Linked DNA regions of Homo sapiens. The protein of the gene in region 2 interacts with the protein of the main gene of each other region in a biochemical or structural test. Each region holds a gene or a part of one and is shown on either strand. Other genes may lie near its edges.

Evidence for each region.
Region 1: of the proteins of ARID3A (region 2) and PML, one has a biochemical effect on the other in vitro, tested with the Homo sapiens proteins (one study listed by BioGRID).
Region 3: the proteins of ARID3A (region 2) and OTUD3 form a complex in vitro, tested with the Homo sapiens proteins (one study listed by BioGRID).

What each region holds. Positions count from the first base shown.
Region 1 is NC_000015.10:74,032,629-74,039,736, reverse strand, and holds part of PML (protein PML), read right to left. Parts: coding exon 7,022-7,108; intron 6,582-7,021; coding exon 6,323-6,581; coding exon of another isoform or gene 6,315-6,322; intron 5,260-6,314; coding exon 5,207-5,259; coding exon of another isoform or gene 5,081-5,206; exon of another isoform or gene 4,566-5,080; coding exon of another isoform or gene 3,786-4,565; exon of another isoform or gene 3,731-3,785; coding exon of another isoform or gene 3,677-3,730; exon of another isoform or gene 3,343-3,676; intron 1-3,342.
Region 2 is NC_000019.10:964,019-971,126, reverse strand, and holds part of ARID3A (AT-rich interactive domain-containing protein 3A), read right to left. Parts: intron 6,880-7,108; coding exon 6,696-6,879; intron 6,295-6,695; coding exon 6,047-6,294; intron 4,556-6,046; coding exon 4,259-4,555; intron 2,723-4,258; coding exon 2,624-2,722; intron 1-2,623. UniProt on the Homo sapiens protein: Transcription factor which may be involved in the control of cell cycle progression by the RB1/E2F1 pathway and in B-cell differentiation.
Region 3 is NC_000001.11:19,885,395-19,892,502, reverse strand, and holds part of OTUD3 (OTU domain-containing protein 3), read right to left. Parts: exon of another isoform or gene 2,344-7,108; coding exon of another isoform or gene 2,306-2,343; intron 2,300-2,305; exon of another isoform or gene 2,119-2,299; coding exon 1,970-2,118; intron 1-1,969.

The DNA.
Region 1 (7,108 bases), on a different chromosome or scaffold from region 2:
GTTCTTGACTTTGGTTAGGCATTCATAGCTTTAAGAAAAAACTGAGGCCCAGGCTGCACCCAAGACTGATTCGATTAGAATCTCAGGGCGTAGGACCTAGGAATCTGTAGTTGGGAAAACTCCCCAGTGTACAGCCAGCTTGAGAACAATTGTCCTTATCACTGATTCATTCCAGGTTTGCTCATCAGCCAAACACAAGCCAAACTCTGATAGTCAGCATCCAGCCTCTGGAAGATACAGAACATCTGACATTCATGCTTATCAAGAGCCCTCAAGCTCCTGAAGAACTTTCTGAGCACTTAAGCATCAGCTACAGCTGGGATCAGTTTGGCAAGACACATGCATTGCTATCTTTCTGCAGACACAAAACCCCAGCTCTTGCAAAGCCTCAAAGACCCCAGGAATACTGCACATGTTATGAGTGAACTGGACCATAAACTCGGCCAGCCTGTGGCCTCTGCTGCCCTTCTGCCTAGCTCCAGCCTCTTGGCCAGCACCTCCGTTTCATTTTCTCAGATGCACACTCACCAGTGCCACGGCCCCTCCCCTGGATCAGCCATTCCCCACAGGCCTCCCTTCCTCCGCCGTCACCACTGCCACTTCTGCCACAGGCTGCCCCCTCACCTTGGCCCCCTCCTGTTGCTGCTGCCACCAAGGCACCGGAGCCAGTAATCTGTCACAAGAGTGGGTGAAAACACCTATCTTTTCCACTTTGGATCCTAAAGCAGGGGCCCCAGGGCAGGCGCACTGCTGACCCACTCTGGCAGTTTTTAAGCAAAGTCCTCACCCCAGGTACTCCACAACCAGGCCTGGGGGACTCACTGCTCCACCCCATGACTATGCCCTGCTGCCTCTCGCTCCTTCTTGCACAAACAGTCTCTCACTGAATCCCTAGGACACAGGTGAAGCTCAAGGGAGGGGTTCCTAAATGCCCTGATACACTTGGAAAGTAGTAATGTAGCAGACCAGTATTCTGCAACTTTCCTCACTGCAAAGCTGGATATAAGCTGCAGAGCTGGGGAGGATGGGTTAGGTGGGAGCCGGGATCACCTTGGGAATATCACCCCACCCCCTCCAAGCTGGGGAGTAGGAATTTGCAGTGGTGGTGCTGGGTGTACTCTGGGGGCACCAGGGGTCTGGAAAGGGCCCAGAAGTTGGGTGAGAAATGCATAGGGGGGACCTAATTTGTTGGGGTTTTAAAATATATATTTTCTAAAGTTTGGGACTCCTATAACAATTTTTAAAACCTGTGTCTTAAAGCTACATACACAAAAGCAGCGGTCCTCTGGCTCTCTCCCCACGTCTCTAGGCCTGCTCTCTAATGTGAGCTCCTAGGTATTTAATTCATCATCACCTGAAATGTGCTTTTACCCCCTCCCTTAATTCACTGTATAGCCCCTAATGACTCCTTGCTGATAGCTGAGCATTACATACTCCCCGCCCCACCCCCAATATTGCTGGGGTCCCTCTACTTGATTCTCCATGACATCTGGGGACACTGTTGGCACTCCAAACCTGTTCTCCACCTTTCCTTCCCAGGCTTCTGCCTCTACCCAGGGTCAGTGGTAGCTTTAATTTTACCAAGATTATGGGATGGAAAGAAGTGCCCAGATTTCAGAGGAATTTACACCCTAGAAAGACAAGACTCAATAACTGGTTGGATGTGAGGAATAATCAAAAGGGGGGTGCCCTGGGTGGCTATGGGGTCTTGGCTTGTGCAACCGGGCAGAGAGTGGGGCGAGCCAGTGAGACGGGAGGAGAAGGTGCTGAGTTTGAGGTACCTATGGGCATCCATGCGGAGCTGTTGGAAGGTCACTGGCCATGCTGGTCTGGCAGGCAGGTGCGAGTGTTGGGTATCAGCTACCCCTGGGCAGTAACTGAAGTCAGGGGCGTGGCTGAGAGCACCTGGGAGAATACACAGACTGAAAAGAGGAAAGGGCCCAGCAGCAAACCTGCAGGAGCACCACAACCAAGAAAAAACAGAGCCTGCAGAGGAGAGGGAGGAGTGCCCAGAGCTGCATCCGAGCAGGCGATCTTTCCAGGAAAGACCGGGCCCAGCGCCGGTCAAGAATAATAACGACTAAACGCGACACTGCACCTAGAGGCACAGAGGCCACCCTGGTACTGGCGGGGAAGCGCAGGAGGTGGGGTGAAGAAGGGGCAAGGAGGGGGCTGAAGTGTAAACAAGGAGAGCAGAGGAAGGGGAGCCGACAGCTGGAGAGAGAAGTGGGTGGAGTTTTCTGAGATGAGAAAGACCTCATTCAGGGTGTTTAGTTCAGAAGGCAGTGGATACATTAGAAGATGCAAGAGAGATGAGGAGGAGGAGTGAGGCTCCCAGGGGGTCAAGGGCTGGGGCCAGGACACAGGGTGAGTCCTGGAGGCAGGTGGACATCCCTTCCACCCTAACGAGGGCAGGGAAGGGGTGCGATGGGGATCTGTAAATAGCAAGATGTCAACTGTCCCTATGCCATTGGAGAGCTCCTGTTTTCTCCCTGGAGCAGAAGGTGCCGCCATCAGCTGAGGGTGAGGCTGGGACAAGGGCCCAGTGAAGAAAGGCAGGCGGGGGCTGCCCTGCAGAGCAAAAGGACATGCTGGGCGGAGCACCAAGGAGCCCTTAGCAGTCACAGGCAACCACTCATAGTTTTCCCAGGCCTTTCTCCTGCAGATCTCGGTCTCCAGGTGGCAGCACAGAGGCGACAAGCTCCTGAGTCCTTCCAGGATTTTCTGCTGGGCAGGGAGCTGCAATTCTGATGAAAGATGGGATGAAATGGGGAGTGCGCGGGGCTGGAGGGAGGCGAAGGTAGGACTGAGAGCTCAAGGAACAGGAGGCTGCGGTCAGAGTCTGAGAGGACCGGCTGAGGGACCGACAGTGCTCGGTGATGGCAAGGTGCAGGGCACGGCCACGGGGCAGGCAGCTGTCTGGGGGAATGGGGTGACAACCCCTGAGAGGTTAAGGAGTGGCGGGCAGGTGGGTGGAAATAGAAGTCACTCAGGAGGAAGGCAGGACCTGAGCAGGGAGAAGAAATCTGGGAGGTGAATGCTCACGTCTGCCCTCAATGAGGGTGGGCAGGTGGGTGTCTGGGATGAGCTGGGGAGCATGGGGCCCACCCTGAGAGGGACAGAGGATCTTACCAGACGGCCAGGAAGGGGCTGGAACAGTCCAGGAAGCAGGGGGCCTTGACCCTACCTCCCACCTCTGATGCCCATGAGTGTGGGAGGAAGAGGGGACATGGTATCCCCAGAGGAGAACTGAGTTCCAGCATAGGGAAGAGAGAACAGCCTGCAGGGAGGAGCTGGATCCATCGGAGAACGCGATGGTCGTGGAATAAGGGTTCGCAAGGGTGATGGTTCAACAAGTGTTTATTGAGCAGCCACATCTGCCAGGTCTTGGGATAGCCAGTCCCTGTGCTCATGGGCTTAGATCCTGGCAGAGGCCTAGTGGAGAGGCTTGGGGTGGGGGTCGGGGCATGGAAGGCTGTGCTATTGGCCAGGGACTCAGAATACAGGAGAGTGCAAGGGTGACAGAAGTTTCTTTCTTGGGCAAAGAGGCCTGGAATGGTGGCTTGAATCTCAGCCATGCCTTAGCCTTCCCCTCTCAGCCAGAGAAGACCCAGGTCTCCCTGCCCAGAGGTCCATGCATAGCCATTCATTCGTTGATTCATTCCTTAACCAAGAATTAATGAGTGCTACTCTGTGCAGGGCCTGTAAGAGCATGGGCTGGAGGAGGCAGCTCAGGGGCCGGGCAGGGGTGTTGGCTGCAAGGTTACAAGAGAAGGGTAGCACTCTCAGAGGCCTGCTTGACGGGCGCCTGGGACTGGGCTGATGGGGGGCCTTTCTGGGGCACAGGGTGGTGGGAATGTAATTGGAGAGGCTTCCAGAGGCACTTGGACTTGAGAGGCCTCCATGGAGCCTCTGACAGAGTCCCCAGGGGGAACACCTGCTCCAAGAGTCTGGGCTCTGCTTTCCCCTGCCCCCACCACGGAAGACATGTCAAGCTGGGAAGCCATGGAGGAGAAGGGGAGGGCAAAAAAGTTGTTGAGCCACTGGGATAAATGGGAGGAGCCCCGGAGGGAGCGGCTGCGGGATCGCACAGCCCCTCGTATCCGGTGGGGTGGGCTGATGCCCCTTTGCAGCTGGGCAGGATGTTCCTGGGCATTGGCAGGATGGTTGAGGGGCCCTGTGATGGCAGGAGTGCTGGCTTGGACCACATGGGGAGACCAAGTCCGAATAGGGGCCCGATGCAATTGAGGGTGCAAGCGGAGGGCATGGCGAAGGCGGATGGCTCTCTGTGCTCTGTACAACAGGTAGCGGATCCCACGGTGGACGGCAGGGCGCTCCTGGTGATCAGGAGGCTCGCTGTGAGGCTCAGCATCGGGGGTGGCAGCCTGCTCAGCGGGCTGGTGGGGAGGCCAAGCTGGGGGGTGGTATGTGCCACAGGGCAGGCTGGAGGCTCCTTGTGCTCTCAGCAGAGACTGGACTGGCGAGGAGTGGGCTGGCGAGGAGTGGGCTGGCGAGGAGTGGGCTGGCGAGGACTGTGGCTCGGCGGTCTCCATGGGCTCCATGCACTTTCCAATACAGAACCTCAGACTGAGGGCTGGAAGAGACCTCAGGGGCCACCCAGTCCAACCTTTCACTCTATTCAGATCCCCTTTTCCCCTGGACAGGTGATAGTCCAGCCTCTAGTAATAAACCTCTAGGGACAGAAGGGTCACTACCCACGAGGCCACCTGTTTCACTGTGGAATGGATTTATATATCTTTCTACATGGATGGAGTCAAACCTCACTTGTTTGGCCCCTATATAGCTGCCCTGTGGCCTGACACCCCTTCACTGGCCCCCACTGGCTGTAATAAACCAAGGAATGGATTCTTGTCCAGCCCTCCTCACTGAGGACTTAGAGGACAGAAAATGCATAAGGAAGCTCCAGACAAAGGTCTTGGACATTCCAGAAAAGAGACAGGGCTCTGGACACATGCTATCAGCATTTCAGAAGAGCTCCTGGCCCTGGTGTAGTGGGAGGGCTGGGGTGGTCCAGGCATGCAGCTGTCATTTGGAGACTGTCCTCAGCACAGCTTGGGACTCAATGCCTCACTGGAAAATTCCCCAGGCGCAAGGCAAGTCTGAGAGTCACCTGCTGTGGCTGTGCCCCCTGGGACCTGAAATGGGGGGAGGCAGGAGTCCTGGGCTGAACTTCTGGGCCACTCACCGAGTTTTCGGCATCTGAGTCTTCCGAGCTGCTGATCACCACAACGCGTTCCTCTGAAACGGGGAAGGGGAGATGCATTATGAACTGCCTAGGATGCATGCTGGGAGGGGTGTGGGTGTGCACCTATGGGAATCCTTGCAGGCCAGTCGGCTGGGGGAAACGGATGCCCTGCAGGGGGACGGGAACAGCCACTGTGTGTGCCAATGTGACTCTGCTTTGCATTTGGATTTGAGTAATTCACAAATGGGTTTCCATAATTTCTTGCTGTGCCTTATCTATGAATATTCAATTAAGTTATCTGCCCAGAATTCAGAATTTGCCCCCTGTACAGGAGGCCTGACAACTGCTACCTGGTCTGGAACCTTCTGCAATCCTAAAGAAGCACACTGTCCCCATTCTCAGCTCCATGAGCTGGGATGTCTAGAGTTAAAAGACGCTTCATTTAGTTAATCAAAACCCATCGATTACCAATAGCATTTGTGGGTAAGGAATATCAGTCAGTGCTCAGTGTGTGACCAAGGCTAGGGCTCAGTCAGAATGAGGAACAAAGCTGTACTCTGGGTGAAGCAGATCCTTAGAACTCTCTTGTTCCAGATTCCTCTGGGTTGACCTCAACTCCTGCCCAACTGACTACCTGCCTGGCAGTGTTCATAGAAGATAACTCTGACAAATGAGATACTTAGGTAGGTGGCCTTTGCAGAAACACTTGGGGAAATGATGGGTGTAGACTGAGAGAGCAGAGTTAAGGTCATGGGGAGTCCAGTTTCCTGTTATGGTATGCCCAAGCCCTCTCTGGGAGTATGCTAGGCATCAGCCAACAAACTTCTTGTGGAGACCTGCCCTGTGCAAAGGCACAGTAGTGTTTGGGAGAAAGGACTCATAGAACTGTGCATTTTAGCCTGTCAGGCTCCCCACACCTCAATCATGGCAAAACACATGGTAAACTGTGTCCACTCTCACCCCCACGCACACTGTGAACTTTCCCTATCTTATTCAGTGGGAATAAGGGACTCCTGTTGGCTTTGGGCTTTCTGGATGGGGCCAAAATACAGAAGAGGGGCACCGCCCAGACCCTGGCGGGCAGCACCCAGGCCACTGCCCTACCCACCTCCCTACCTGCCTCCCCGGCGCCACTGGCCACGTGGTTGCTGTTGGGCAGGAAGACCTCACTTCCTATGACGGGGCTCCTGGGGCTAGGCGGTCCATCCAGGTGGGGTGGTGAGACTGCCTTGGAGGTGCTGGGCCTGGGCTGCTCCGGGGAGCTCCGAGCCAACCTTGCCTCCTTCCCCTCCTCAGACTCCATCTTGATGACCTTCCTGGGGCACTGGGTCTGGCTGCACTTCCTCTTCTGGGCTGTCGTTGTATTGGAGACATCCTGCATAGAGGGAGTCACAGAGCCAGGTCAGGTGCCTGCAGGGGTGAGTGGGCAGAGCCTGCCCTGACTGCCAGGGACTTGTGGCCACCCTTTTGCTCCTGCTGTCCCCTCTCCTCTGCTCTCAACCACGCAGATTACGTCTCTCTTCAGACAGGAAGCCTTCCCAAGCTGGTACTATCTGCTGTCCACCAGTCTCTGCTGGCCTCTGACAACCCTGAGTGTCTCAGCACCCCTGCTGGGCTGGGAGTGGGCCATGCTTATGGGAAGCTCCCTGACCATGCAGCCAAGAACAGGGGAGAGCACAGAGAAGGCGTTGAGCAAACACTTTCCCACAAAGAGCTGATCTGATGAAGGCCTGGATTCCCACCCCAGTGCCAGCTCACTTTCCTGGTGGAACTCAGGCCTTCAGGAGGGAAGGCTGGGGCTGGGGAGAACCTTACCTCTCCATAGGAAGGGCCTTTGATGGAGAAGGCGTACACTGGCACGGGGTGTGCCCCGGGCACTGACTGTACCACAGCCATAGGCTG
Region 2 (7,108 bases):
GCACACACGTGTGTTTAATCCACACATGCACATCAGCGTGCACACAGCTCTTGCAGGGAGAACCCTGATGCCCATGGTTCGTTGATGTGGGGTTGCGAGACCCCTAGCACACAGTTGGCCTTCTCCCCTGTAAGATTCAATATGAATGTACACGTTTTACATCTGATTTCCGGAGGGCACGGACCCCTCAAAAATCCATTTGTGGACCTGTGAGGACACCACTGACCTTCAGCTCAGCCTCTGACCACAGCCGGGCGGGGGCCTGCAACAAGGCTGCTCTGTGTCGACAGCGCCACCTGGTGGCCACTATGAACCATCGGCCTGACTCCACTTTAAGAAAAACTATTCATTTACCGCCGGGTGTGGTGGCTAATGCCTGTAATCCCAGCACTTTGGGAGGCCAAGACCAGCAGATCACGAAGTCAGGAGTTCGAGACCAGCCTGACCAACATGGTGAAACCCCGTATCATCTAAAAATACAAAAATTAGCCGGGCCTGGTGGCATGCACCTGTAATCCCAGCTACTCAGGAGGCGGAGGTTGCAGGAGCTGAGATCATGCCATTGCACTCCAGCCTGGGCAACAGAGTGAGACTCTGTCTCAAAAAAAAAAAAAAAAAAAAAAAAAAAGAAAAACTATTCATTTACTTATGTTCTTTTGTAGAGATGGGGTCTTCTGTGTTGCCCAGGCTGGCCTCAAGCAAACCTCTCTCCTTAGCCTCCCAAAGTGTTGGGATTACAGGCGTGGGCCACTGCCCCTGGCACTGACTCCACTTTTTTAATTAAATTTTTTAATTCTTTTTTTTTTCTTCCTCTGAGACGAAGTCTTGCTCCATTGCACAGGCTGGAGTGCGGTGGCGCGATCTCGGCTCACTGCAACCTTCGCCTCCCGGGTTCAAGCAATTCTCCTGCCTCAGCCTCCTAAGCAGCTGGGATTATAGGCACACACCAGCACACCTCGCTAATTCTTGTATTTTTAGGGAAGATGGGGTTTCACCATGTTGATCAGGCTGGTCTTGAACTCCTGACCTTGTGACCCACCCACATCAGCCTCCCAAACTGCTGGGATTACAGGTGTGACCTACTGTGCCCGGCAACTTTTTAATTCATTTTATTTAAAAAAATATGTATATATAGGGTGGGCGCGGTGGTTCATGCCTGTAATCCCAGCACTTTGGGAGGCCGAGGCAGGCGGATCACCTGAGGTCAAGAGTCCAAGACCAGCCTGGCCAACATGGTGAAACCTCATCTCTACTAAAAATACAAAAAAAAATTAGCTGGGTGTGGTGACACACGCCTGTAGTCCCAGCTACTTGGGGAGGCTGAGGCAGGAGAATCGCTCGAACCCAGGAGGCACAGGTTGCAGTGAGTCAAGATCGTGCCACTGCACTCCAGCCTGGGTGACAGAGGGAAGACTCCCTCTCAAAAGAAAAAAAAAACAACTATATATATATATATCTATGTAGATATAGATATAAAAGTATATATGTATTTATAGATACATATAAATCTATATCTAATCTATATATATCTATGTATAGCTACAGCTATATCTATCGATATATCTATATATAGATATATAGAGAGAGAGAAGGACGGGATCTCACTCTTTCACCCAGGCTGGAGTGCAATGGTGTGATCTTGACTCACTGCAACCTCCACCTCCTGGGCTCAAGTGATCCTCCCTACTCAGCCTCCCGAGTAGCTGGGACTATGGGCGCCTGCCACCACGCCCTGCTGATTTTTATATTTTTAGGAGAGATGGGGTCTCACTATGTTGCCCAGACTGGTCTTGAACTCCTGGGCTCAAGTGATCCTCCCGTGTTAACCTCCCGAAGTGCTGGAACTATAGCCATGAGCCACTGCACCCAGCCTAGATTCAATTTTTTGGATACCTCATTTACCCTGATGTGATTATTAGGCATTGGATGCCAGTATAAAACATCTCATAAAACCCATAAATATATATACCTACTATGTACCCACAAAAATTACAAATTACAAATTAAAAAAAATAAAAAATACATTCATTAAATTTTTTTTCAAGAGACAGGGTCTCGGTCTGTGGCCCAGGCTGGAGTGCAGTGGCGTCATCACAGCTTGCTGCAGCCTGAAAGTCTCTAACCCCTGGGCTTATACATTCTTTGCTCCTCAGCCTCCGAAAATGCTGGGATTGGCTGGGTGCGGTGGCTCACGCCTGTAATCCCAGCACTTTGGGACGCCGAGGCAGGAAGATTGCGTGAGCCCAGAGTTCAAGACCGGTCTGAGCAACAAAGCAATTTAAAATTTAAAGAGCAACAAAAAATTTAAAAATTAACCAGGTGTGCTGGTGCATGTCTGTGCAAGACTCCGTCTCATTAAAACAAAAAACTAGGAATGTGAACCATCCAACGTCACACTGAATATGTATCTGTGGACGACCCCCTCTGGGCTGAGCGTGGTACCGGGTGAACGATGGTATCCTCTCCATCAGTCTTGACTGTTTGTCCTGCAAAGCCCCTGGCCGTGCCCTGCTCGCCCGCACACCTAGGTTCAAGCAGGTGGGACCAGGCGCAACTCAGGGTCCTGAGTTCACGGCGGCGGGAGAGGCGAGGTCCAGGCAGGGCGTGGCCTCAGGGGTCCTACCTGTGTACATGATGCCGTTGATCTCCACCGACATGCTGATGCTGTTGCTGCCGTTGGTGCCCGTCAGGTTCACAGCAGAGTCCTGGCGGCTTTCGGAGGCTGTGGGAAGAAGAACAAATTAGTTTCTTTTTTTCTTTTTTTTTTTGAGACAGAGTCTTGCTCTGTTGCCCAGGCTGGAGTGCAGTGGCGCGATCTCAGCTCACTGCAAGCTCTGCCTCCTGGGTTCACGCCATTCTCCTGCCTCAGCCTCCCAGTAGCTGGGACTACAGGCGCCCGCCACCACGCCTGGCTAATTTTTTGTATTTTTAGTAGAGATGGGGTTTCACCATGTTGGCCAGGATGGTCTCGATCTCTTGACCTCGTGATCCACCCGCCTCGGCCTCCCAAAGTGCTGGGATTATAGGCATGAGCCACTGTGCCCAGCCGAACAAATGAGTTTCTTTCTTTTTTTTTTTTTTTGAGACGGAGTCTCACTCTGTCACCCAGGCTGGAGTGCAGTGGTGCGATCTCGGCTCACTGCAACCTCCACCTCCAGGGTTCAAGCAATTCTCCTGCCTCAGCCTCCTGAGTAGCTGGGACTATGGGTACACACCAGCACACCCGGCTAATTTTTGTATTTTTAGTAGAGACGGGGTTTCACCATGTTGGCCAGGCTGGTCTTGAAGTCCTGGCCTCAGGTGATCTGCCCGCCTCGGCCTCCCAAAGTGCTGGGATTACAGGCGTGGGCCACCGCGCCCGACCAAAACTGCCATTTCTGATCATAAAGACACCTGTGACATGTTCTGTTTTCTGTCTGTCTCGCCAACTAGATTTTAGCTTTACAAGGTGTAGACGGTGTCTGTCACATTCATGCTGTCACCAGTGCACACAGTAGGTGCTCAATATTTATTTGTTGAATAAGTGTATTTGTCCATACTCCACTTTGTTTTTTTTTACCTTGTTTTTGAGACCAGGTCTTGCTCTGTCACCCAGGCTGGAATGCAGTGGTGCAATCATGGCTCACTGCAGCCTCGACTTCCTGGGCTCAAGTGATCCTCCCATCTCAGCCTCCCGAGTAGCTGGGGCTACAGGAGCGTGTCACCACGCCCAGCTAACTTTTGTAGAGATGGCATCTCACTGTGTTGCTCAGGCTGATCTCAAATTCCTGGGCTCAAGCAATCCTCCCATTTCAGCCTCCCAAAGTGCTGGGATTATAGGCATGAGCCACGGTGCCCAGCCAGTTTACTTTATTATTTTTTATTTTTTGAGATGGAGTTTTGCTATTGTTGCCCAGGCTGGAGTGCAGTGGCGTTATCTCGGGTCACTGCAACCTCCATCTCCCAGTTCATGTGATTCTCCTGCCTCAGCCTCCCAAGTAGCTGGGACTACAGGGGTGCGCTGCCACGCCCGGCTAATTTGTTGTATTTTTAGTAGAGATGGAGTTTCACCATGTTGCCCAGGCTGATCTCGAACTCCTGACCTCAAGTGATCCACCCACCTCGGTCTCCCAAAGTGCTGGGATTACAGATGTCAGCCACTGCACCCGGCTTTTTTTTTCTTATTGATTTGTTGGCACTCTTTACATATGTAGGCTCCAAGGCCCTCACTGTGTGACACACGCAGGAAGCACAGCGGGTCTGGGCACGAGGGCAGTACCTTGGCTGTTGATCCGAATGCTCATGGGCAGCTGGGCCGCCATGGCCAGGAAGTTCTGCTGGAGTGCACGTTGCATCAGCCGTTGCTGCTCATCGGCCACCAGGGCCATCTTCTTCTCCGGAGGCTCTGCAGACTCCAGCTTCTCCCGCAGCTGTTCCAGGGCAGCTGCCTGTGCGGCCACAGCTGCTTGGGCGGCTGCTGCTTGCACAGCTGCTGCCTGGGCTGCCACCACAGGGTGGCCCGCCAGGGACACAGGCAGGCGGCCAGGGACTGTGATGGGGATGGCTGAGTCCTCCTCTAGGTAGGAAAAAAGGGGAATTGGTGGCCAGGAGGGGCTGGGCCCTGCCTTCCACTCAAGGCAGGAACATGCACCTTCTTTTTTCTTTTCTTTTCTTTTTTTTTTTTTTTTTGAGACGGAGTTTCACTCTTGTTGCCCAGGCTGGAGTGCAATGGTGCGATCTCAGCTCACCGCAACCTCTGCCTCCCGGGTTCAAGTGATTCTCCTGCCTTAGCCTCCCTAGTAGCTGGGAAACAGGCACCCGCCACCACGCCTGGCTAATTTTGTATTTTTAGTAGAGACGGGGTTTCTTCATGTTGGCCAGGCTGGTCTTGAACTCCTGACCTCAGGTGATCCGCCCGCCTCGGCCTCCCAAAGTGCTGGGATTACAGGCGTGAGCCACCGCGCCCAGCCTTTTTTTTTTTTGCTTTGAGACAGAGTCTCGCTCTGTTGCTTAGGCTGGAGGGCAGTGGCGCGATCCCAGCTCACTGCAACCTCTGCCTCTCAGGCTCAGGTGATTCTTCTGCCTCAGTCTCCTGAGTAGCTGGGATTACAGGCGCCCACCACCACACTAAGCTAATTTTTTTTTTTTTTTTTTTTGACACGGAGTCTCACTCTGTCGCTGAGGCTGGAATGCAGTGACGTGATCTTGGCTCACCGCAACCTCTGCCACCTGGGTTCAAGCGATTCTCCTGCCTCAGCCTCCCAAGTAGCTGGGACTACAGGTGTGTGCCACCACACCCGGCTAATTTTTGTATTTTTAGTAGAGACAGGGTTTCACCATATTGATTAGGCTGGTCTCAAACTTCTGACCTCAAGCGATCCGCCTGCCTCAGCCTCCCAAAGTGCTGGGACTACAGGCGTGAGCCACTGTGCCTGGCCTAAAAAAATTTTTTTTAGACTGGGTCTCACTACTGTTGCTCAGGCTGTAGTGCAGTGGTGTAATCTCAGTTCACCACAGCCTCGACCTCCTGGGCTCAACCCATCTGACCACCTCAGCTTCCTGGGTAGCTGGGACCACAGGTGCACGTTGCCACGCCCAGCTAATTTTTTTTTTTTTTTTTGAGATGGGGTCTCACTATGTTGCCCAGATGAGAAATGGTAACTCAGACAGGCAAACTGAGGTGACACTGCTGTGTGTGCTGTTGGTACCTCTGTGTTATGGAGGATTCAGAGGCTCAGTGGGAGGGAAAACTGATCAACTGATGATGCCTGCCTCAGTGTAGACTGGAAAAACAGTGATCAATTAGTAATGTCTGCCTTGGCCACAGGACTGGAAACACAGATTGATTAGCAATGTCTGCCTGCCACCTGTGTGGAATTAGAAAATGGTGATGGATTGGTAATGTCTGCCATAGGCAGAGGACTGGTAGATTGGAAGCCCTTTTCCATGCCAACTATAGGGTTTTTCATCCTGGTTACCCAGAGAGGGGAAGAGGTATCCCCCAAGGTCAGACAGCCAGGCTGAAGCTCAGTTGGGAACACGCCCCAGGCCCCATACAGGCCCTTACCTTTCTTGATCTTAGGGGCGGGGGTGATGGAGCTGCCATTGGTGCTTGCGGCCAGGCCCAGGGAGGACACGGGTAGCTTGGGTGAGGAGAGCATGCCGTGTGCCCCGCCTGGCGAGTAGGCAAAGAGGGAGCCACCAAAGCTCTGGCGCCGGCCCTCCCGTCGGTTGCTGTCTATGGCTGCCTGGAGCTCATTGGGGTTACTGAGGCCCCGCTTCTCACACTCGTAGGGGTACAGGTACTTCATGTATCTGTGGGTGGGACGAGGGAAGAGGATGGCACCCGGGTCACCCCTACGGCTCTCTTTGGCCTTCAGTACAAAGTAAACCCCACTGTGGCACCACCATCCCTGGTTCTTCCCTTGGACTTGCTCAGCAGCCCCCAGAGCTGCTGGGCCTTTGCCCATTCCCTCCATCTCAATGCTGTTCCTCGCAATGGCCCCTGATTGCACAACCCCAGAGACTGTGTGGTCCTCGCACCCCTACTTGACGCTCTCGGGCCCTGGACGCACGGTGTGGCCCTGTGCCCTTTGCGGCTGCCCACTGCCCCCTCCTCTGCAGCTGCCCACCACCCCCTCCCTCTTCTGCAGGCCCCTTGCACTGGCTGCTCAGAGTGCCCTGGCCCGACCTCGGCACAACCGTCCGCCACTCACTGGGTCCGCAGGGTGAAGGCTGCACTGGTGATGGACGTGGGCAGGTTGAGGCCCTTGGTGATCTCACGCCACAGCTTCTTGTTGATGACCTCCACGAGGCCGCCCTTCTCCGTCACCAGCACGTACAGCATGAACAGGTCAAGGACCTGTTTGGCCATGATGGGGATGCGGTTCACAGGTGTCCCTGGGGGAAGGGGCGAGAGGGAGGTTGGGGGCCACCTGGGCACTGCAGGGAGCCGAGTGTCCTGGCCTCCGCCCTCTCCATGCCAGGAGCACTCCCCCGCCCAGGCTGTGACAACCACAGATGTCTCCAGACATTGCCCAGGGCCCTCTGTGGGTGCAGGATCATCCAGGCTGGGAACCTCTGCTCGAGAGGGTGCAGAGGGGGCAGCTCTGCCTCGGTTTATCCACCA
Region 3 (7,108 bases), on a different chromosome or scaffold from region 2:
CAAGGGTGACCAGGTCCTTAATAGTATAGTGAACCATTCATTTATTCACTTTATGAATGTCTACCAGATGCCGGGCACTGCCACACCGCAAAACAAAGACACACAGTCCCTGCCCTTGAGAATCTCACAGTACAACAAGGTAGGCAGCACACTGACATTAAAAACAGGTAACTATGACTCAAGACTCACCAATGTAACAAGCCAAGCCTTCAACTGACACACAAAGAGAATGTGCAGACTTCCAGGTTTCTTTTCATTTCTGCTCTGGCCGTCAAAGTGACTTCTTACTTCTGTGATGCTCAAATTCTTAAGCAGCTCCAAGCAACAGGCATGCATAGTGACATTTCAAGAAAACACCTTTCCACTGTTCATCTCAAGTGACTATCACATTGGCAACCGAAGATTTGAGTTCCCTATCCTGTAACACCCCAAAATCCACCATGTGATCTTCACTGACAGTGTTCAAAGTGGAGTTTCACATCACAAACTAAAAACCCGTTTCATCCAAAATGATGTTTTCATTGGATTAATGACACAATTCATTTCGTACAGCACTAAACTACAAAATTTGTCCCATATACAAACATTTAATTTGTAAACTGCTGACTATCCAGTAAACTATGCATATCTGCTAGCCAAAAAGTAATCCCAGGAAGAGGGACCATCTGAACTCAGTGATTGGTACAAACCACCCATTGGAAGTTTTGTTGCTCTGTGTCTGGTGCCTACTGAGTAAGTTCTTTCCTAGTAAGGAATGGGAAACACTTTGGGATCACTGATACCTTTTCTCCCAAATGTCCCCCTCCTGCTGCCCTCTCTCTTGCTAACGGTACAGCCAATTACCCATTCCCTAAGCAGAAACTTCAGAATCACTCTTGTCTCCTCCCTCTCCCCTCCTCACCTCCAATGTGTCCTGTCAATTATACTGCCAAAGTGTGGCTTGGTTTGGGCCTTACTCATTATCCTCAGTAGCTACCTTGATGGAGACCTCCTCTACTCTCATCTGGCCAGTGTGGAGACCTTCTAACTAGTCTCCTTTATCAGTCTCTCTCCCCATCCATTCTTGGCATGGCCTCCAGACTTAGCTCTCTAAAACAAAGGATCAATTCTCTTTCCTGATAACAGACAGAAAAGACTATAAGCCCTGTGATGAAAATGCCATTTGTAAGACATATCAGCAGCAAGCACAGTAGATCCTCAGTAAATATTTGTTGAAATTAAAGTTTACAAGTTCATATGCATTTTCTATAAGATCTATGCCTATTAAATAGGAACCAATTAAAATCACTAACTGACTTGCCTCAAAGAAAACAGATTGTGTTTGGGGTTTGGGTGAGAAATTAACATGATTTTATTGGTTTTTCTAATTTTAAAAGTAATACATGATCATCTAAAAGTCAGAAAAAGTCTATAAAAGATAATTTAAAATACCATAGTCCCATCATCCCCAGATGGCTAACGCTTACTAAGGGCTTATTTTAATTTTGTTATCTAATTTAATCTTCACCAAAAACCCTGTGAGATAGATGCTATTATTATCTCCCTTCTATAGAAGTTTAAAGAGAATGAGTAATTTCTGAAAAATAAGTGAAGCTAAGAATTAACAAACAAAATGTTAGTATCTTTCCAGACTTTTCCTACTGTGTCTGTATACCTTTTAAAAATAGGATCAACCTATACAAGCTATGTTATAGCCTGCTTTTCCCACCCCACAGAGTAAGAAGTCATGAATCGCTTTTCAGGTCAATTAATACCATCATGTTTATTAAGGGCATATACAGCTAAACCTACTGATCCCCAACTACCTAGCATACTGCCGATAACCAAGTAGGCAAACAAATATTTCTTGAATAAATGAATGTCGTGATTTATATAACCAAACCCTTGGCTGGGAGGGGGGAGGATGCCAGTGGACTTAATTACCCAATGCATTACTCCTGAAGGACACAATGTCCCACAGTGAACCTACCATGCTTCTCAAAAGGAATGTCATCTTCTACAAAGGGTTCAAAATCTTCCCGCTGCTTTATCATGTAGTCCACTGTCTCCTGTCTGTGCTTGAGATGATTTCGTGAGTGTCCCTCCAATTGATCACCAAGAGCTCTGAACAAGCAATTGCTGTCAAAACAACAACACGAGTCAAGACCTTTCAAAAATGAACTTAGTTCGTCTAAAACAATGATGCTTCATGCCAGATCATCCATGGAAATATTTTGTGCACACAGAGGTAAAGACTCAACTCTAATAGTCCAGGATTCTTCCAAGACCACGGGGGACAGCATGAGGGCATATTCAACCATATTACCTTCTTGAGAGGCAGCAAACAAGGATTCTATTCCCCATGTACCAGCTGGCTGACTCAGGAGAGTCATCAAACTTCCCTGGGCCTCAGCTGCTTCAACAAGTGGAGCCGGTGATACACTAACCACCTTACTACAAGGTCCAGACCTTATAGGCCATTCCATGCCTAAGGGCTATGATTTACAGATCCTCTTCCAAAATCATGTCCTATCTACAGCCTCTTTTCTAAAACAAGTTCCACTACAGCTACCCAGCTAAGTAATCATTCATTTAACAAATAGTACCCAAAAAATAGCAATTTGTCAAGCTGCCAATACTAACAACTGAACAATACTCTGTTTGAGTCCTAAGAACATAGTGGAGAAAGTCATGAGAAGGAAAGCACTTGGACAACAAACAGTTGTACTATGGAAAGACACTTCCTCCTTGCCTCCTCACTTAGCACCCAGGGAGCAACAATGCCATTGTTATTCCTGCCAAATGAAAACTTTAAACACCACATTTTGTTTCTCTAAAATTAAAATACTGGTAATAAACTGTAAGAGTTATCTTTACTTTCAAACCCCTCAAAGGCTTCTAAATTCCGAACTATCACAAACACAGAGGCTTAGATACACAGAGACTCAAACAAGACAAACACAATCTGGTATCCTTAAAACTACAGAAATAAACAATTCTGAAGCCAAACAGTTGTCCAGTTTTACACCCAACTGTTTACTCTTCCAAATGAAAAACTATGATACTGTAATTCCAAAGTATAAACTCATCACTTTCAGAAAGATTTCATGTCTAAATGTGTAGGAAAAAAGGGGGTTTTGTTTTTCAACTCAGAAAAGTGAATTTTCAACAGAAAGCTATAGAAAGGCTGGAATCTCTTCTAATGTATAAGAATATATACTTTTTTTTTTTTTGCAGGGGAGGGGAGAATTAAGACAGCTTCTATAAATTAAAAACCAAGAAGCTTTCCAACAATCTAAGACAAGATTCTAGAAGGAGTGGAATATAGAGTTCTGTAGGCTAGACTGAGGTGTCTTGCTAAAATCTGACAATGGCAGTCTTTTTTCAACCATGGAGAAAAGTAAGTTAATCGATAAAACAATTTAAATGTCAAGCTTTTCCCTCAAACTTTTCTTAATCAGCATCTGCCACCACTAGCCTATTCTTGAATTTAGTTTAAGAGATGTGATTTATCACAAATTTATGTAGTTATTTTACATTTAATGTACCAAAATTCATGGTATTCTACAGTTACATGTTTGCTAGGAACTTTTAATAACATGAGCAAATGTTCTCCAAAAAAGTAGGTGTAGAACTGTATATGCCACATGAACTCAACCAAGTTCATCTGTACACTATACACATACACAGACACAGAAACACACACAAACGTATGCCAAGAAAACACACAGAAACAACCACTTAAATAGTTCTTACAATGTGCCAGGGACTGTCCTAAACACTTTATATGTATTAAACATGTTGTGTCTCACAACTCTGAGATAGGTCCTATTACCATCCCTCAGGGGAAACCTGCCCAAGGTCACAAAACTAGTAAGTGGTAGGCCCAGGATCCAAGTCCAAATAACGTGGCTCTCGCTCGAATGTCAACACCAAAATGATAGCCATAGTTACCCCTAGGCAGCAGAATTAAAAATAATATTTAAGAGTTTTAATTGTTACATTTTTTAATATGCTTTTCATTACTTACCAAACTTTCTTTGAGCTCACCCAAAACAAGCCAAAATAGACAAATCACTTCCTTTTCTGACAGGATTACAAGGTAATGAACAAACACTCCAGTGACCTGGGTTTCCTTAGGTGAGCCCAATAAGAGCACTCAAGAAACTCATGAGAACAAAGCACCGCTGCCCAAAGGGCCTCTAGGAGATCTGGGCCACTTCCTGAGTTCACACTCTCACCATTACCTATAGCAGGGCTTCTCAATCTCCACATTATTGACATTCCAGGATCATTTTTTTGTTGTGGGAGGCTGTCCTGTGCACTGTAGGAAGTTTAGGAGAATACTTGGCCTCTGCCATTAGCTGTCAGTAGCACATCACTACCTCCCTCCCCATCAGTTGTGACAACCAAAGATGTCTCTAGACATTGCCAAATGTCCCCTGGAGGGCAAAATCATCCCTGCTTGAGAACCACTGTGTTATAGGGATATATGGCAGGTCTCGCATTTGAGTTCACAAAAACAACCAATTACATAAAGAGCACGCAAATGTTTTGAGTGCGCAATAATTTACTATTAGACAATATTGCAACACACGCACCAAAAAACCTAACGTGCTCTCTAGACTGCAGTAATAATAGTAAATGTGCAGAAAAAGGAAAAGGTTTTATTATTTGGGGTCAGACCAGATAGGGTACTGGGTACCATTCTAGTTACTGTATTTTAAGAGAGACGTATTCAGATAAATGATGTGGCTTTAATACAATATGAAGAACTACTAGTGATGTTTGGCCTAAAGAAGGCTCAGGGGGACGTGATCAATACCTCCAACTGTCATGTGAAATTAAAATTATACCTGTATAATAAAACGAAAACCTGGAAGCCACAGAGACATAGATTTTGGCAAATAAAAGGTAATTTCACCTTAGCTCTACGGAGGTAGACTATATAGACTCAGGATTCTGCCAATTTCTATAACTAGCAATTCACAGCAATTGTCTAGATGTGTGTTGTTTAATAGTGGTTGCTAACCGCATGTGACTACTGAGCATCTGATGTGGCTAATCCACAGTGAGGTGTGCTATCAGTGTAAAATACTAGATTCTGAAGCGGTCATATAAGAAAATATGAGAGATCATCAGCCGGGTGCGGTGGCTCATGCCTGTAATCCCAGCACTTTGGGAAGCCAAGGCAGGCGGATCACCTGAGGTCAGCAGTTTGAAACCAGCCTGACCAACACGGAGATACCCCGTCTCTACTAAAAATACAAAATTAGCCAGGTATGGTGGCGCATGCCTGTAATCCCAGCTACACAGGAGGCCGAGGCAGGAGAATCGCTTGAACCTGGGAGGCAGAGGTTCCAGTGAGCCAAGATCGTGCCATTGCACTCCAGCCTGGGCAACAACAACAAACTCTAATGTCTCCAAAAAAAAAAAAAAAAGAAAAAGAAAAAGAAAATATGAGAGATCAATAATTTTTATATTGAATTGTATGTCAAAATAGTATTTTAGATACAATAGCTTAAATAAAATATACTAAAATTAGTTTCACCTGTTTCTTTTTAATGTAGTTACTAGAAAAATTTTAAATCACATACGTGGTTCACATTCTATTTCCCCTGGACAGCGCTGATCTAGATCACTGATTCTCAAAGTGTGTTCCCGGACTAGGAGCATCAGCATCCCCTGGGCAGTTGTTAGAAATGAAAATGCTGGGGCCCACCCAGGCCTACTCAATCAGGCATTCTGGGGTTGGGGCCCAGCAACGTAGCCCTTCCAGGTGTTTTCACTAGCAGTCCAGGTGGTTATGTTGCATACTGAAGTTTGAGAAACACTAGTTGAGCATCTAGACTCTAAATCAGTCACTCTCAATTATGGATGCATATAAGAATCATCTGTAAATTTTTTTTTAAAAAACATCAATAACCAGGCCCCACTCTAAGATTCTGATGTAGTTGATCTAGGGGAGAGCCCAGGCCCTGAATTGTTTCAAAAGTTCCTCCCCAGATATTCTAGTATGGCACCCAACTGAAAACCACTGAGTGAGGCACAAAAGATGGCACTGCTGTTCAGGTGACACAGGCAATAATTAGACAAGATGATGTGTGAATGCCCTTCTACTACTGTGATCCTGCAATATTAAAAACAAAACTAAAAAATAAACTACTTGTTAGTAATAAGATAAACAGCTAAAATTAGTGATTCTTCAATGTTTCAATTTTAGAACACTGCTAATGAGTAATGTAACTCAGAACTACATTTAGTAAGACCCAACTAGATAAGTTCAGAGGGATGTTAATATTGTACTGCCTAATAAATAGAGTTATACATTCTTTTCACACTATAGCCAATCATGTTTTTAAGGAAAACATCAAGGTTAAACTATTTCTTTCTTGCTTTGAAAAATGAATCCAATTTATGTGGGTCCACCTTCCAGACAACACGTGAAATATGAAGCTGGTCCAGGAAGCATTACAAAACCCTCTAAGTAGCTCCCTGATTAATCTACACTAAGCTGACTCAACCCATGTAAAGGCTGTATTACAGGATATTGGTTAATTCATCCCTAAACCCCCTCAGGTTCCAGAATGCTACAGGTACCATATTGCCAACAATGAACATGCTCATAGATACTGTATCAGGCTACTCCAGATTGTAATCAAATCTGAATGAAAACAGGGAACGCTAGAGATGTCAACTATTTTTTAATAGTCTTTAACTTCATTATATTTCACCTGAGTCCTTAATAAACATTAATAAAAGAATCCGTTGTCCAGGCGCGGTGGCTCACACCTGTAATTCCACCACTTTGGGAGGCCAAGGCGGATGGATCATGAGGTCAGGAGTTCGAGACCAGCCTGGCCAACATGGTGAAACCCCATCTCTACTAAAAATACAAACAAATTAGCTGGCTGTGGTAGCAGGTGCCTGTAATCCCAGCTACTCAGGAGGCTGAGGCAAGAGAATTGTTTGAACCCAGGAGGCAGAGATTGCAGTGAGCCAAGATTGTGCCACTGCACTCCAGCCTGGGTGGCAGAGTAAGACTCCGTCTGAGGGGGGTAGAAGAATCTGTTGACACCTGCCAACCCATCACATACACAGGAAACACCATCCCCTGCAGTGATAAAGT